Linked DNA regions of Homo sapiens: region 2 is linked to region 1. The links come from fine-mapping of genetic effects on gene expression. A gene starts in region 1. The other region holds a variant in brackets. All regions are shown on one strand. Distances are between the middles of the regions.

Region 1 (8,374 bases):
TAGCCCCGGCCCCTGTGCGGGGTGGAGAGGGAAGTGAACCTCCACAACCTCCCCTCCCCTGAGGCAGCTCCTGGTTGAGCAAGCTCGGCTGACTGTTGGGCAAGATGGTCGCAGAGCAGGGCCCAGCCCGGCCTCAGTCCATTTGCCCCTTCCCTGGGGAGAGCCCCCTTCTGCCTGTGCTGAGAGGCTCACCCCGCAGCTGCAGGCCTGGGAGGAGCCAGCTTCCAATCAAAGTCGCCTGCTGGCCTACCACGCGCAGGCCCCGTGCTCAGGCGACGCTGGAGGAGCTCGCCCTGCTCTCGGGAGCCCCCTGCCCAGGGTCTGCTGTGTGGCCGAGTGGTCACAGGAGGCGGCTGCCTCTGGCTCTGGACTAGGGAGATGCTTGAGGAATGAGTGTCAGGGTCCCTGGTGCAGCCGTGCGGGTCAGTGACAAGGGGCAGGAGGCTCAGCAGAGCTTGTAGGCCACTGGGCATGAGCAGGAGCAGGCACGCCGCCTGTCCAGGCCCCTCGCCAGCCGCTGCTGGCCGGAACAGCCTTTGACCAGCACTGGTCTGGGTCTGGCCCACCCTGAGCTATGCTGTTACCTTCCGGATTCTTCCTGAGTCCTGGGCTCCCCTACTGCCCCGCCCAGCCCTGACCACAGCCAGTCAGGGCAGCAGGATTTCAGGACGGCTGTGCTCTCGGGTCCAGGCAGGTACTTGCGGATCTCGGCCGAGCAGCCTCCTCTTTGGAAGAATCCCCCTCAGCCCCGACATCTCTTAGATCTGAGGGGTTCACCCACCTCTGTCTCATCCTCACGCCCTCCTGCCCCCCGAGCAATGCCACAGTTCCCTTAGCGGGATGGAAGGACAGAGAAGGCAAGACACTCGCCTGCTGGAGCTGCCCCACGGAGGAGGCCCCGGAACAGCAGGCAGTAGATGGCCTTGGCTTGTGCCAGAAGCTCTGGCCTGTTGGGCACCGGCTCCCCTGAGGCCTCCCTGCTGCCTTTTCTATGCCTTGTATGATGGCCTCCCCGTCTTTGGGGACCTTGGGTAACGGCTATGTTAGGGTGTGTTGCTTTGTTATATTGTTTTATGTATATTCCAGTCCTGAGGTGTGTGGCCTCCAGCAAGGGATCGAACCTCCCCGTGCCTCAGTCTTCCCAGCTGAAAATGGGGCTTTAATAAGAAAATACATGTCGGCCGGTCGCGGTGGCTCACGCCCATAATACCAGCACTTTGGGAGGCCTAGGCAGGCGGATCACGAGGTCAGGAGATCGAGAGCATCCTGGCTAACACGGTGAAACCCCGTCTCTACTAAAAATACAAAAAAATTAGCCGGGCGTGGTGGCATGCACCTGTGTCCCAGCTGCTGGGGAGGCTGAGGCAGGAGAATGGTGTGAACCCGGGAGGCGGAGCTTGCAGTGAGCCGAGATCGCACCACTGCACTCCAGCCTGGGTGACAGAGCAAGACTCTGTCTCAAAAAAAAAAAAAAGAAAAAAGAAAATACACGTCAAGCCAGGCGTGGTGGCTCAGGCCTGTAATCCCAGCACTTTCAGAGGCTAAGGCAGGCAGATCACGTGAAGTCAGGTGTTCGAGACCAGCCTGGGCAACATGGTGAAACCCTGTCTCTACCAAAAAATAAAAATATACCTGGGCATGGTGGCACCCATTTGTGGTCCCAGCTACTCAGGAGGCTGAGGCAGGAGAATCACCTGACCCCAGGAAGCAGAGGTTGCAGTGAGCTAAGATCGTGCCACTGCACTCCAGCCTGGGCGATAGACCAAAACCCTGTCTCAAAAAAAAAAAAAAAAAAAGGAAAAAAAGAAAAGAAAAGAAAAGAAAATAGAAAATACAAGTCAGGCTATTTCTCCTAATACCTAGTGCTGAGCTGCTGCTATTAATGTTCGTCTGTCTTTATTAGGCGACATTCTCCAAGCTCATGCTGTGTGGTGGATTCCGAGCCTGGCACAGGGACCCAGAGATGAAAATGCCACCTGTCCCCACCCCAAAGCCTCCCGTCTGAGGGAGGAGAAAGACCCATGTGAACGGTTACAGGGAAAGAGCACGTGATGCCACAGGGCACAGATCCCAGAGACACAGACCAAAACGGGCTGCCGCGTTCTGCTTCAGGTAGACAGAGCTTAAGCAGCTCCATGATTCCACGTCAGCTGGAGCAGGGGGACAGGTGCCTTTGGTGGCACTCTGGTCAGTGCAGCCTCAGTGGAGGCCATTCCACATCCCATACCATTGCCCCAGCGATGCCACTTTGAGAGCAAATCCACACAAAACTCTTGCAAAGATGAGGTTGTGTAGACCATGATTCTGATGCATTCAAAACGCTCTAAATGCCCCTATGCCAGTGACTGGGTGAACAAGTCATGGTTCAGTTGAACTTTTTTTGAGTTTGTTTGTTTGGTTTTTTTTTTTTTTTTTTTTTTTTGAAACGGAGTTTCACTCTTGTTGCCCAGGCTGGAGTGCAATGGCGCAATCTCGGCTCGCTGCAACCTCTGCCTGCCAGGTTCATGCGATTCTCCTGCCTCAGCCTCCCAAGTAGCTGGGATTGCAGGCATGCGCCACCACGCCTGGCTAATTTCTTTGTATTTAGTAGAGACGGGGTTTCACCATGTTGCCCAGGCTGGTCTCAAACTCCTGAGCTCAAGTGATCCACCCGCCAGGGTCTCCCAAAGTGCTGGGATTACAGCCGTTAGCCAAAACCCTGTCTCGATAAATGAATAAATAAATGAAAGGCTACAGGCCTCAGACGTTCGTTCTGGAAGGTGCTGAGGAATTTGTTAACAGTGGTTGCCTGGAAGGCAGTGGGGAGAGGCTTTCCTTTTTCAGTCTGGTATGTTCCAGTTTGTTTTCAGCCGGGTGTACTGCATTAACCCTGCAAGAAGAAAATGGAAAGAATTTGAAAAGATGCTGGGGTGTGCAGAGGAAGGGCACGCGAGTCTGGGAAGAGGTGACATCAAAACCAGGTTTTTTGTTACCTGTCAGCCCCCATGTGAAGTCCCGGCGGGGCCCCTCAGCCTGCCTGAGTGGGAGGGGTGCCCAGAGGGTCCCATCTGTGGGTGGTGGGCGGCTGGGTGGGTCTCAGGGGGAGGCTCCGTCTGGGCCCTGTGTGGCCTCAGTGCCCTGGGACGCTGGCGTTTGTCACCTGCTGGCCGTCCCTCCCAGGCAGGGATGGTGTGAGCGCCCTGGTCCTGGTCCGTAGCACAGGACACGCACACCTGCCTTCCACGAGCACCCCCATGCCCATGGTCTTGGGGGGCTCGGCAGGTGCCCTCTGCGCCCCCCACAGTAGGTGTGCAGGCTCCGTCCCACCGCGCGCGGCGGCACGAGGGTCCCACCCAGGCCGGCCAGGTTTTGGGGCGGCCTCGCGCCCAGGCAGGTGGGACGCTGCGCGCGGATGGGGGGCGGGCGGCGGGCGATTTCCCAGCGGGTCCCCGGGGCGCGCGGGCTGGGGGCGCCGGAGCGGCCGAGGGAGGAGGCCACACGCTCGCCTGCACCGCTGGGGGCCGCCCGCGGGCCTTGCCGGCCAGAGCGCAGCGTGCGCCCCGGGCCCCGCGCCGGCACTCGCTCAGCGACCGCGGCGGAGACACGAGCGGCGGCGGCGGAGCCCAGAGGGCGGCGGGAATGCGGAACCGGCGCGCGGGCTGAGGCCGCCCGGGATGGCGCAGGGGCGGCGGCGGCGGGCGGCCTGCGCGGGGCCCTAGCGAGCCGGGCTGACGCTCCCGGCCCCGGCCCCGGCATCGGCATCGCGGGCGCATCGCGGCCATGGCCAAGGAGCGGCGCAGGGCGGTCCTGGAGCTGCTGCAGCGGCCGGGGAACGCGCGCTGCGCGGACTGCGGCGCCCCGGGTAGGTGTGGGCCGGGTGGGCGCGGGGCCGGGTGGGTCCGGGGTGGGCGCGGGGTGCCGGGCGGGTCCTGGGTGGGCCCCGGGGACCGGGCGGGGGAGCGCGGACGCCGCGGGGGTGGCGGCGCTGAACACCGGGCCGGATCGGCGCTCGGATGGGGCCCGGGCCCGGCTGCACCTGCGGGGACCCGGACGTCTTCCCGGGCCGGGCGCAGCGGGGGGGCCCCCCCCAGGACCCCCGGAAACCCCCCTGCCGCCGCCTCCCCTCCCCCGCCGGGCTGCGTGTCTGACGGTCACCGCGGACCGCCCGCCGCGTTGCGAAAGCTCGGGCTCCGCACAGAAAGAGGAAATCGGGGCTGGCTGCAGGGAGGGAACGGGCCGCCAGCCGGAGGTCTCTGCTGGGCTGTGGGGTCCGCCGGCTCCGGGGCCACCTCGCGGTGACGTCATGCCTCACGCCCTTCCCGCACCGGGGGTCCCTGGGTGTGAGCGGCGCCCCTGCCCCCGGCTCCCTGCACCTGGCTGCTCCGGGGCGGGCGCCAGGACAGGTGAGGCCTGGGAGAGGTGGGGCCGGACGCAGGTCCTGGTCCACCCGCCGCCCGCCCGTTCGTTCTCCCGGCCGGGCATCCCTGACTCGGTTCCCAGGTCTGTGGGATTTCAAGGCACTGGAGTCCAAAGGCGCGGAGTCCCTCCCTTCCAGGCCACTGGTCCTGTCATTGGCTGTGAACGGGGCCCAGTGCCCAGACCAGCCCTGCCCTGCTCGGGAGCTGTCAGCCCCAGGCCGGCTGCGCTGTGGAGAGAGGGCCCCGCCGGAGCAGTCCCGCCACCCCAGGCACACCAGGAATCTGGGGGCCAATAGTCTAAGCCCCTCGGAACAAACCTAAACTCACCGGCGGTGACTGAGGCCCCCAGGGAGGGAGCGGGGGAAGACCTTGCATTTGCCTCCAAGGCCCTGGTTCAATATGCAGCCTCTGGACACCCCGGAAAAAGGGGTGTCCCTGATTCCCTCTGGGATGGAGGGGTCTCTGCCAGCCCCAGGTCGTGGTGGCTGCTGTCCAGCTGCAGCTTGGCTGGAAAGGCCACATCAGGAGCTGGGGTGTCCCAGAGGGGAGATAGCGACAGGCTTTTCTGGAAAGACAGGCAGGACCCACGGCCTTTCCATGGTCTCCTGAGACAGGACGGCCACAGGGCCCGTGCAATGGTGCGGTGGGGGTGGCCCCCTGGGCTGGCTCACCCCAGACTCTCTCCCCACAGACCTTTATTTCCTCCTGTTCAGGAACGCTCCCCAGGAAAGCCAGTGGGAAAGGGCCTGGCCTGGGGTTGCTGTGGCCCACGGGGAGGGGAGCTGGGCTTGCCTCTGAACCTCTGCTCCCTGGCCACACAGCCTGGGAGCAGCTTCTCTGGACTCAGGGCCCCTCTCCAGCCACCCTCTGGGCCTCCCAGCCTGGCAGGAGGAAGAGGGGACTTCCTTGGCCTGCTGGGTCCTTCAGTGGTCCTCCCCTCCCAGTGGGTGCAGGTGTGCCCGGCCCACCTGCTAAGCTTCCAGCCTGGCCCACCCCAGAGCTGTTCTCTGCCGTCCCTATGCCCCACGCTGCCGGGTAGAGGGCCGCACCTCTGCCTTTTCAGAATCTGTCCATGACCTCAGTGACTTGTCTCCTCTGTCGGGTAGCGCCATGGAGGGGGGATGCTGTGAGGGGTCACTCTCATTTCACAGCCAGGGAGACTGATGCCTTGCAAAGGGAGCTGTCTTAGGGGACATGAGCCACACCCGGCCGCTCTGCTTGTCCCCGCTCCCCAGGGCTGTGGCCACAGGGTGGAACAGGCGGTGTCAGGAGGCAGGGGGCTGCCTAGCCCCCCATGACCCCATGGCACATCCTCGAGGGCTCTATGCTTCTTTGCTGATGCCAGCTGCTCTGGGGCCTCCTGTACCTGCTGTGGCCCAGCTGGGTGACAAGGAGCCACTCCAGTGTTGATGGGGGCTGGGGTGGCCGGCACGTTCTGCTGTCCTCAGAACACTGTCCTGTGCACTGGCTCACGGCTGGTGCAGACCTGGACAGCAGGACATCAGACAGTCCCAGACCACCTCTGAACGCCAGGCCTGGGGCTGCTGGGGTGGACTTGAGCAGGCCCCACCCACTGGCCGTGTGAGGGAAGCAGTCTTGGGGTCTCTGCGGCCCCCACAGAAGCTCCTTCCAAACTCTCCCCATGACCTGTCCCAATAGTGGGTTCCCCTGACCTTGAACAGGGGGCCTCGCCCGGCGGCCACCCAGAGAGCCTCTCATCACAGGCCTGGCAGGTGGGCGAGTTGGGGCGTGCCTGGACCCACTGTCCTGCAAGACCTGGGTGGGGGTCTCCATCCTGGGAGGGGGTTTGGGGGAGGGAGGGGTGCCTCCGTACATCCTTGGAGCTGCCTGCCAAATCGCAACAGAGGACAGGGACCGGGCGCGGTGGCTCACGCCTGTCATCCCAGTGCTTTGGGAGGCCGAGGCCGGAGGATCGCTTGAGGCCAGGAGTTGGAAGCTGCAGTGAGTCGTGATCACACTCCAGCCTAGGCCAGAGTGAGACCCTGTCTCAAAAAAAAGAAAAACACACATATTGTCCTCTTTGAGTCTCAGGCCATCTGATGCCCCGGAAGGACTGGGGTGTCTGAGCTCTTTTGTTCTTTTTTATTTTAAGGTCTCGCTCTGTCACCCAGGCTGGAGTGCAGTGGCACAATCTCAACTCACTGCAGCCTCTGCCTCCAGGGCTCAAGCAATCCTCCCACCTCAGCCTCCTGAGTAGCTGGGACTACAGGTCCATGCCACCATGCCCAGCTAATTTTTTTTTTTAAGACAGTCTCTCGATGTCACCCAGGCTACAGTGCAGTGGCACGATCTTTGCTCACTGCAACCTCCAACTCCCAGTTTCAGGAATTTGGCCGGCATGGGTGAGGGTGGGAAGAAGGCTGCTGAGTGTGGGCGGGGGCTGGGCAGACTCCCTTCACTCCCCAGGGCAGCGGCCCAACTAGGTTGGATATTTTTTTTTTTTTTTGAGACGGAGTCTCGCTCTGTCGCCCAGGCTGGACTGCAGTGGTGCGATCTCGGCTCACTGCAAGCTCCCCCTCCCAGGTTCACACCATTCTCCTGCCTCAGCCTCCCGAGTAGCTGGGACTACAGGCACCCGCCACCACGCCCGGCTAATTTTTGTATTTTTAGTAGAGATGGGGTTTCACCATGTTAGCCAGGATGGTCTCCGTCTCCTGACCTCGTGATCCACCCGCCTCGGCCTCCCAAAGTGCTGGGATTCCAGGCATGAGCCACCGCGCCTGGCCGGATTTTTTAAAAATAATAATTTACCTTCTCATCGTTTCGAGTGCACAGTTCCAGGGCCTTGAGCACGTTCACTCACCGTGCCACCGCCACCACCATCATCTCCAGAACCTCCTCATCTTCCCAAACTGAAGCTCTGTCCCCATTCAACAAGGGCTCCAGATTTCCTCTCCCCAGTCCGGGGCACCCACCCTTCTACTTTCTGTTCTTTTCTTGTTTTTTTTTTTTTTTTTTTTTTGAGACGGAGTCTTGCTCTGTTCCCAAGGCTGGAATGCAGTGGCGCCATTTCAGCTCACTGCAACCTCTGCCTCCTGGGTTCAAACGATTCTCCTGCCTCAGTCCCCTGAGTAGCTGGGATTACAGGCGCCTGCCACCACGCCCGGCTAATTTTTGTATTTTTGGTAGAGACAGGGTTTCGCCATGTTGGCCAGGCTGGTCTTGAACTCCTGACCTCAGGTCATCCTCCCAACTTGGCCTCCCAAATGGCTGGGATTACAGGCATGAGCCACCGTGCCTGGCCTCAACTTTCTGTCTCTATGAATCTTATGACTCCAGGGACCTTGTAGAAGTGAAACCATGCGGTATTCATTTTTTTTTTTTTTTTTTTTTGAGGCAGAGTCTCATTCTGTCGCCCAGGCTGGAGTGCAGTGGCACCTTCTCAGCTCACTGCAAGCTCCGCCTCCCAGGCTCATGCCATTCTCCTGCCTCAGCCTCCCGAGTAGCTGGGACTACAGGTGCACGCTGCCATGCCCGGCTAAGTTTTCTGTATTTTTAGTAGAGATGGGGTTTCACCACGTTAGCCAGGACGGTCTCGATCTCCTGACCTTGTGATCCGCCTGCCTCGGCCTCCCGAAGTGCTGGGATTACAGGTGTGAGCCACCATGCCCGGCTGGTATTCATTCTTTTGTGACTGGCCAGTTTCACTCAGTCTAACGTCTCCAGGTTCACAGATGCTGTGGCGAGTGCTGGGATTTCCCTGCATGTGAAGACAGGATCATACCCTGTGTGGATGAACCACATTGCGTGTGCCCGTTTGTCTGCAGGCGGACACTGGGCTGCTCCCACCTCTGGGCCATTGTGAATCGTGCTGTGTGAGCACGAGGGTGCAGATGTCTCTCTGAGACCCTGCTTCAGGTTGTTTGGGTCTGTACCCAGGACTGGAGTTGCTGGGTCCCATGGCGATTCTGTGCTTACCTGGTTGAAGAACTGCTAGACAGGTTTCCCCTACCTGG
Region 2 (8,221 bases), 46 kb after region 1:
GGCTGCCCCTCGGGGGGACGGGTGTTTGGGGCCTGGCCAGAGGTGGTAGGGCTGCCCCATTGCCCCTCTCTGGGTGGGTGTCGGCTCCTGGCCCTCCGTGGGTCCCCCGCCCCCTTCCTGGCCCTCCGTGGGACCCCCGCCCCCTTCCTGGCCCTCCGTGGGACCCCCGCCCCCTTCCTGGCCCTCCGTGGGACCCCCGCCCCCTTCCTGGCCCTCCGTGGGACCCCCGCCCCCTTCCTGGCCCTCCGTGGGACCCCCGCCCCCTTCCTGGCCCTCCGTGGGACCCCCGCCCCCTTCCTGGCCCTCCGTGGGACCCCCGCCCCCTTCCTGGCCCTCCGTGGGACCCCCGCCCCCTTCCTGGCCCTCCGTGTGATCCCCGCCCCTTTCCTGGCATGTTTGTCTTACAGGAGTCAGGGTTCGCTGTTCTTGGGCGCTGGGGCCCCTGTGTGGGGGCCTCAGGGTTTGGGGCTTGGGGAGGGGGGTACCCTGGGGCTGACTTGGCCCTGAGGGTGGCCCCTCCTGCAGCCTGGGCAGCCTGGCGGGGATGGGGGCATCCACACGTCACTCTGGGCAGGAAGGCGCTGTGGAAACTGTGAACCCGTGTGTGAGTGGGGGGGTCTCTCCAGGCCTGTCGGGGGCCGGGCCCCATGCTGGGGGCTATATGAGAATAGGAACAGGGTGAGAGCTGACCCCAGGAGCCCTCGTCCACCCTCTGGCCTCACCCCTGGGAACAGGGAAGCCTCCCTGTCCTGGCTGTTTGGAGAGAGAGCTCCACGCAGGGCGAAGCTGGGACCTGGAGCCCTCCGCAGGATACGGCCCGCTGGTTCTCAGCCTCTGCCGGCCCCAGACGCACCAACCTGGAGAAGGTGCATTAATGGGTCGGAGAGCGTGGGTGGACGGGCCAGGCAGGGAGAGACGGAGCCCTGTGCGGGCTCACAGAGGAGGCCTTCAACTCTAAGGCCTTACCCAGCAAGGAGACACTGCTCTGCCGTGGGCTCCGGTGTTTGCCTCCTGAGGGAGGGCAGGAGCCACTAGGACCCAAAGGCCGGAAGCCAGGTCCAGGCCCTTCACAGGGACGGCCGGGGTGCAGTGATCAGGGCCTCGGCCCCGTTCTCAGAGGCCACCCATCCATGGTGCACCCCTCCCTGTGGAAGGCCAGAGGCCCCATGAGATATGGGGATGCAGTTCCCACCCCAGAGGGTCCACCACCCTGTGAGCTGTCACTCAGAGCAGGGCCACGTGCTTCCCTGCCCCAGTTTACAAGACAATTAGCATATAAATCACATACGTGAGGTGTGATTTACATCTACTTTGCATATCCTATTTAGAGTGCAGTCCCAGCTCTGACAAATCCAAGACCCAGCAGTCTCGGGCCAGGCGTGGGGCTCACGCTGCAACCCCAGTATGGTGGGAGGAGAGGCAGGAGGGTCACCTGAGCTCAGAAGTTCGAGACCAGCCTGGGCAACGCAGTGAGCTCCCATCTCTACAAAAAAATACAGAACTTAGCCGGGTGTGGTGGCGTGCATCTGTGGTCCCAGCTACTCGGGAGGCCAAGGCTGGAGGATCACTTGAGCCCGGAAGGTCAAGGCTGCAGTGAGCTGTGATAGTGCCCCTGCACTCCAGCCTGGGTGGGGAAAAAAAAAAAAAAGCCTCGTAAACGGGTGTGGGCTTTATGTGAAGGCTGTTCCTGTTTCCTCGGATTTCACTTCTCTCTGAGGCACGTGATGTGCGCGCTTCACTGTGGTGGAAGAAACGGCCTGGCTGCTTTCCAGGGACTGGGGCACCTTACATCCCCACGGGCAGCGTGGAAGGGCCGGCGTCCCCGCCCACAGTCGGGCGCCTGTGTGTGCACACTGGTTTGGTTTTGCCGTTCTCGTGGGTCATGGCGATGCTGAACGTCTTTCCTGCTCTTAGCCGTGCGGTGGGCAGAAGGGCTCCTCAGAGGCGTCTGAGCAGGGCATGGGGTGTGGACTGGACCCAGCTCCCCACAGGTGGGACAAGACCTGGCACACAGTGGGACCGGCACACAGTAGGGCCTGGTGTGCAGTAGAACCCCCCCCACCCCACACCATAGGACCCGACACACAGCGGGACCAGCTCACAGCAGGGCGCGGCACGCGGTAGCTGTTTGATAAATACTGGTCGAGTCCTGCCCCAGGACTCACGAGTCCTTTAAGAGAAAATGGCCATTTCTGGCCACAGCCCACCCGGCTGTCCAGGACGCTGCCGTGTGAGGGGCTGCTCTGTGGGGAGAAGCCCCGTCTCACTGGCTGTTGCTGGTGCCGACTGGGGGCTGCAGGCCCCTGAGGTCCTGGCCCTCCCCAGCGAGGCCAAGGGGCTGGCCAGGCATGGGGAGAGCAGAGGCTCAGCCTGAGGTCTGGACTGGGCGTGGGGCGCGTCCGGGACCGTGGCCAGCGCCGTCCTGAAATACACTCCTGCGTCGTCATTGCCCCTGGAATGCGGCGTCCTGGCGCCTGCTGTCGGGAGGACCGGGGTTCCCGCTGGCGCCTGCTGTCGGGAGGACCGGGGTTCCCGCTGGCGCCTGCTGTCGGGAGGACCGGGGTTCCCGCTGGCGCCTGCTGTCGGGAGGACCGGGGTTCCCGCTGGCGCCTGCTGTCGGGAGGACCGGGGTTCCCGCTGGCGCCTGCTGTCGGGAGGTCCGGGGTTCCCGCTGGCGCCTGCTGTCGGGAGGACCGGGGTTCCCGCTGGCGCCTGCTGTCGGGAGGTCCGGGGTTCCCGCTGGCGCCTGCTGTCGGGAGGACCGGGGTTCCCGCTGGCGCCTGCTGTCGGGAGGACCGGGGTTCCCGCTGGCGTCTGGACCCCGAGAACACCGGAGCAGCTGCGCGCGTGCAGAGGGGCAGTGGCCTCCCAGACCCCGCGGCCTGCGCGCTTCCGGAGCACTGCTGTCACCTGCTGGGCGCGGCGGGCATGGCAGGGGCGCGTCCCCACCCTGTGGCCTAGGGAGCCCGGTCGCTGGAAGGGGCCCCCGCTGTGTCCTGGGCAGGGGTCTGTGGAACCGACACACTGGACCCAGCCAGCTCCACCCCCGTGGGCGAGGTGGCCCAAACTTGTCGTCTGCATTGGTGACACGGACACGCACGCCTTGGAGGCTCCCCGGGGTGCACACAAGGCCGTGAGCGGCAGAGGCCGGGAAGCGCCGCTGGGCCCGCTGCTGCGATGCCTCCCCGGGCACTTCTCGGCGTCCACCCTCAGCCACGAAGCGCCGCGTCCAAAGAGGTCCTGATGTCGGAGGCAGAGCCGTGGGGACACCCAGCTGTGCCTGGGCAGGGGCTCACTGAGTCAACAGGCGTTCTGAGCAGGCCTTACTTGGGTCTGAGGGACACTGGTGGCCTCGCTCTCACAGTGAGAAGCAGGAGAAGGGGGTTCTTCCATGGGAAGGGGGCTCCTGGCTGCTGCTGTGCGCACGGGGCTGGGGCAGCAGCCTTGTAGAGGCTTGGGGAGCGGGGAGCTCCGGGCAGTGAGGGGAGCAGGCCCCGTCTGGCACCATCCAAGACAGCCCAGGGCCCCCTCCCCGAGGGCACCAGCTGTCCCCTCCCCAACGCCAGGCGTTTTATGGCTTGCATCTCAGCAGAGAAAATAGCCCCTGGTCTCTGGTGTCGGGATGGGGCTGTCTGAGCTGGGGAGGGGATGCTGGGGAGCAGGGGGCTTTGGTGGTCAGGGCTGATGGGCGGTGTCTGCAATCTGAGCCTCTGTCTGGCCTGTTGGCTGCTGCAGGGGGCTGTTTAGCCCCGCCTGGAGCCCACAGCCCCCTCGCGTCCCTGTGGCGTAGGTCAGCAGCCCCTGCCCTCAGATGACCGGGGCTCCCAGGCCACATGGCCAGCAGGATGGGATGCTGTCCCCAAGCAAGTGCTCTCTGAAGTCACTGAGGGGTCACGGACAGGCCCACGGATGCTCAGCAGACGGCCCCACGACCCCGGGAAGGGCCCACGGACACTGGGCAGACGGCCCCGCGACCCCTGGAGGGGCCACGGATGCTCGGCAGACGGCTCCTCGGCAGACGGCCCCGCGACCTCCGGAGAGGCGGCGCCCACTGGGGATGCTTGGCAGACGGCCCCGTGATCCCAGGAGAGTCTGCACCCACTGAGGACCTGCTCGACCCTGGCCACGCAGCTGCTGCCAACGGCGGGACCTGCACGCGACCCAAGGCCTGGCAGACGGAGCCCAGGACACGGATGCTGCAAGCCACATGCTGTTGGGGCGGGACAGCCAGGGCCATAGAAGAAGCTGCATCTGAGTCCGCAGGACACAGAGTTCCAGAGCAGGAGAAAGGACGGGCAACGATAGGAACCACGGACAGG[G/A]AGCAGAAGTGGGAGCGGGGCCTGGGGGGGATGGGAACGCCCCTCTGAGTGGCCACACGTGGGTCACTGACCGCAGCTCAGTGACGTGAAGCCACACGTGTTTGTTCTCCCACAGCTCTGGCAGAGCTCCAGGACGATCCCACGGGCCCGAGACTCGGAGTGGGCAGAGCTGGTTCTGGGCTCAGGACGGGTCCTCTGGCCTCTCCCTGGTGCTCCTGGGCTCTGGGGCCCCCTCTGGCCTCAGTTTCCACGGCCACGTCCCCTTCCCTCCTGTCCTCATATCTCTGCCTCCCTCCCCTGTGATCGTCTGCCACAGCAGCGTCCTAACCACCCGTGCACGGTGTGTTTTGCCATAGAAGGTGGCGTGTCCAGGTGCTTAGGCTCCCAGGGGGATGCCCGGGCTACTTTTCTGTGGCTGTGTGTGGTGTGCGTGAGGCCACAGGCGGAGATGAGGGCTTGAGCTGGACTCCCCTCAGATGAGCTTTCCTGAAAAAAGAGGGGATGGCACCACCTGGACCCAGCAGCTGCGGACGGCTGAGGGAGGAGGGAGGAGGCCAGCCTGGTCCTCCCGGGCAGCACGAGGTTGGACCCAGCCCTGCCTCTGCCCATGGTGGCTCTGGCCATGTCCACTCAGGATGGGGAGGGTCCCTGGGGGCCAGTAAAGGACAGCTGGAGTCCCGCTCATCCAGGCCGTCCTCAGGCTGGCTTGGGCCAGGGTTGCAGCCAACAGCGCTGGTCCACTGTCATATCCCCTCACCAACCATCCACCATCACCATCTGACCCATGTCCCCCCATGTCCCCTGTCCCGTCCCCCGTGTCCCCTGTCCCCCATGTCCCCTGTCCATGTCCCCTATGTACTCTGTCCCCCATGTCCCGTCCCCGATGTCCCGTCCCCCATGTCCATGTCCCCCGTGTCCCCTGTCCATGTCCCCTTTCCCGCCCCCTTTCTCCTTTCCCTTTCTCCTTTCTCCTTTCTCCTTTCCCTTTCTCCCTTTCTCCCTTCTCCTTTCTCCTTTCTCCTTTCCCTTTCTCCTTTCCCTTTCTCCCTTTCTCCCTTCTCCTTTCTCCTTTCCCTTTCTCCTTTCTCCTTTCTCCCTTTCTCCTTTCCCTTTCTCCTTTCTCCTTTCTCCTTTCTCCTTTCCCTTTCTCCTTTCTCCTTTCTCCTTTCTCCTTTCCCTTTCTCCCTTTCTCCTTTCCCTTTCTCCTTTCTCCTTTCTCCTTTCTCCTTTCTCTTTCTCCCTTTCTCCTTTCCCTTTCTCCTTTCTCCTTTCCCTTTCTCCTTTCTCCTTTCTCCTTTCTCCTTTCCCTTTCTCCTTTCTCCCTTTCTCCTTTCTCCCTTTCTCCTTTCTCCCTTTCTCCTTTCTCCCTTTCTCCTTTCCCTTTCTCCTTTCTCCTTTCTCCTTTCTCCTTTCTCCTTTCCCTTTCTCCTTTCTCCTTTCTCCTTTCCCTTTCTCCTTTCTCCCTTTCTCCTTTCTCCCTTTCTCCTTTCTCCCTTTCTCCTTTCTCCCTTTCTCCTTTCCCTTTCTCCTTTCTCCCTTTCTCCTTTCTCCTTTCTCCTTTCCCTTTCTCCTTTCTCCTTTCCCTTTCTCCTTTCTCCTTTCTCCTTTCTCCTTTCCCTTTCTCCTTTCTCCCTTTCTCCTTTCTCCCTTTCTCCTTTCTCCCTTTCTCCTTTCTCCCTTTCTCCTTTCCCTTTCTCCTTTCTCCTTTCTCCTTTCTCCTTTCTCCCTTCTCCCTTCTCCCTTCTCCCTTCTCCCTTCTCCCTTCTCCCTTCTCCCTTCTCCCTTCTCCTTTCTCCTTTCTCCTTTCTCCTTTCTCCTTTCTCCTTTCTCCTTTCTCCCTTCTCCCTTCTCCCTTCTCCTTTCCCTTTCTCCTTTCCCTTTCTCCTTTCTCCTTTCTCCTTTCTCCTTTCTCCTTTCTCCTTTCCCTTTCTCCTTTCTCCTTTCTCCTTTCCCTTTCTCCTTTCCCTTTCTCCTTTCCCTTTCTCCTTTCTCCTTTCTCCTTTCTCCTTTCTCCTTTCTCCTTTCTCCTTTCTCCTTTCTCCTTTCTCCCTTCTCCCTTCTCCCTTCTCCCTTCTCCCTTCTCCCTTCTCCCTTCTCCCTTCTCCCTTCTCCTTTCTCCTTTCCCTTTCTCCTTTCTCCTTTCCCTTTCTCCCTTTCTCCCTTTCTCCTTTCTCCTTTCTCTTTCTCCCTTTCTCCTTTCTCCTTTCTCCTTTCTCCTTTCTCCTTTCCCTTTCCCTTTCCCTGCCCATCTTCCTATCTCCCTGTCTCCTCCATGTCCCCTCTCCCCGTCCGTCTCCCCCTGTCCGTGTCCCCCGTCCGTGTCCCCCGTGTCTTCTCCCCATGTCCCCTCTGTCCTGTCCATCGTCACTCCTTTTGTTTCCTCCCCCCCATCCACTGTCACCGACTCGTGTCCCCTTTCCCCCACAGGGTACCGTGAGGGTTTTCTCTGGAAGCGTGGCCGGGACAACGGGCAGTTTTTGAGCCGGAAGTTTGTGCTGACAGAACGAGAGGGTGCTCTGAAGTATTTCAACAGAAATGATGTGAGTCACAGACGGGGGTGGGGTGGGGGCCTGTCCCAGGGCGGCATCCCGGCCTCCCACACTGGGGCCTGTGGTGGCCGCGTCCATCCGCAGCTGCCCTCCCTGCTGCCCCCCCCGATGGGGACGCTCCAGGAGAACCGGCCTGTGTTGGGCTGAGCCTCTGTGTGCCGGACCCAGCGTCCCCCAGGGTGGGGCAGCTGAGGCTTTCCAGGAGCCTGGGCGGCCGGGCGGGGCCCCCTGAACTCAGGCCCAGCCGTGGGAGAGGGAGAACCTAGTCACTGGGCCCCTCTGGAGCCAGCCAGGACCCCAGAAAGCCCCTAGTTTTCCTGGAGGTACCCTGGGGAGACTGGACTGGGACAGGACAAACACATTGGCAAGAACAGTGGGGTCTTCACAAGGTGGCCCCAGACCCATGGGCTGATGGTCAGAAGCACCCGCCCTGAGCCGTGGCGGGCACTGGCTGGAGGTGGGCTGGTGGCTGGGGCCTGCCCCTGTGGGAGCTGCCGTGCCGTGTGGGGCCCGGGGCTGCCCCCGGGGAGGGAGGTGCAGTGTCTGATGTCAAGTGCCACCTGCACAGTGTCGTTGAGGTCCCCATCACTCCTGGGAGGGAGGTGCTGTTACCTTCTGCTTACAGACCGGGAGGCCAAGGCTCAGAGCGCTTAAGTAACTTGCCCAAAGCCACACAGCACAGCAGGTGCGCCGCCAGCACCCACAGGGTCTGCCCTTCCTGCTCCCTTGAGCTTGGACGACGGCCCCTGTGAGGTGCTTAGACCCCACCCCTTCTCAGGCCAAGGAGCCCAAGGCCGTGATGAAGATCGAGCACCTGAACGCCACCTTCCAGCCGGCCAAGATCGGCCACCCCCACGGCCTGCAGGTCACCTACCTGAAGGACAACAGCACCCGTAACATCTTCATCTACCATGAGGACGGGAAGGTGGGTGCTGGCGAGCACTCGGGCCCGGGTGGCACAGGAGGGTGGGCCCTCAGGCCCGGGTGGCGCAGGAAGGTGGGTGCTTGGACGGTACGGGAGGGTAGGCACTTGAGCTAGGCGGCATGAGAAGGCGGGAAGTCGGGCTGGGCAGCGTGGGAAGGCGGGTGCTTGGACGTGTGGGAGTGTGGGCACTGGCGCCGGGCAGCATGGGAAGACAGGTGCAGGAAGGCAGCTTCCCAGGGCCGGGCTGCCCAGGAGCCGGATCACCACGCTGTCTCTGGGGCCACCCAGCTTGGCCCTGTCAGTGGGGGCTGCCAGCTCGGGCTAGAGGATCCACCGCCCCCACAATGCCCAGAGGGGACCTCGGGGGGAACTGGGGTCCTACGGGGAGGAGATGTGGACGGTAGCCGGCTCTGGGGTGGTTTGGGTAG

What was found. PIP is the estimated chance that this variant, and not a neighbour inherited with it, causes the effect.
Region 2: its variant is fine-mapped to the expression of ADAP1 in whole blood (INTERVAL, PIP above 0.99). The same link has a PIP of 0.9 or more in breast, subcutaneous fat, sun-exposed skin, tibial nerve and visceral fat.

Annotation. Positions count from the first base shown.
Region 1 is chr7:949,863-958,236 of GRCh38, reverse strand. It overlaps ADAP1 (ArfGAP with dual PH domains 1), which reads left to right and starts at 3,557. Exons shown (of 11, transcript NM_006869.4): 1 at 3,557-3,841. The coding sequence starts at 3,760. It overlaps LOC124901569 (a long non-coding RNA gene), which reads right to left and starts at 3,383. Exons shown (of 2, transcript XR_007060178.1): 1 at 2,973-3,383; 2 at 2,747-2,869. RefSeq lists silencers at 1-9, 3,251-3,350, 3,206-3,361, 3,381-3,870, 4,161-4,370 and enhancers at 2,664-3,273, 4,496-5,107, 8,037-8,374.
Region 2 is chr7:903,698-911,918 of GRCh38, reverse strand. It overlaps ADAP1 (ArfGAP with dual PH domains 1), which reads left to right. Exons shown (of 11, transcript NM_006869.4): 5 at 6,747-6,859; 6 at 7,647-7,793. Among named protein-coding and RNA genes, the nearest start is that of GET4, 31 kb to the right of the region's middle. RefSeq lists a silencer at 2,785-3,004 and an enhancer at 3,519-4,217. The variant G/A (reference allele first, on the strand shown) is at 4,320.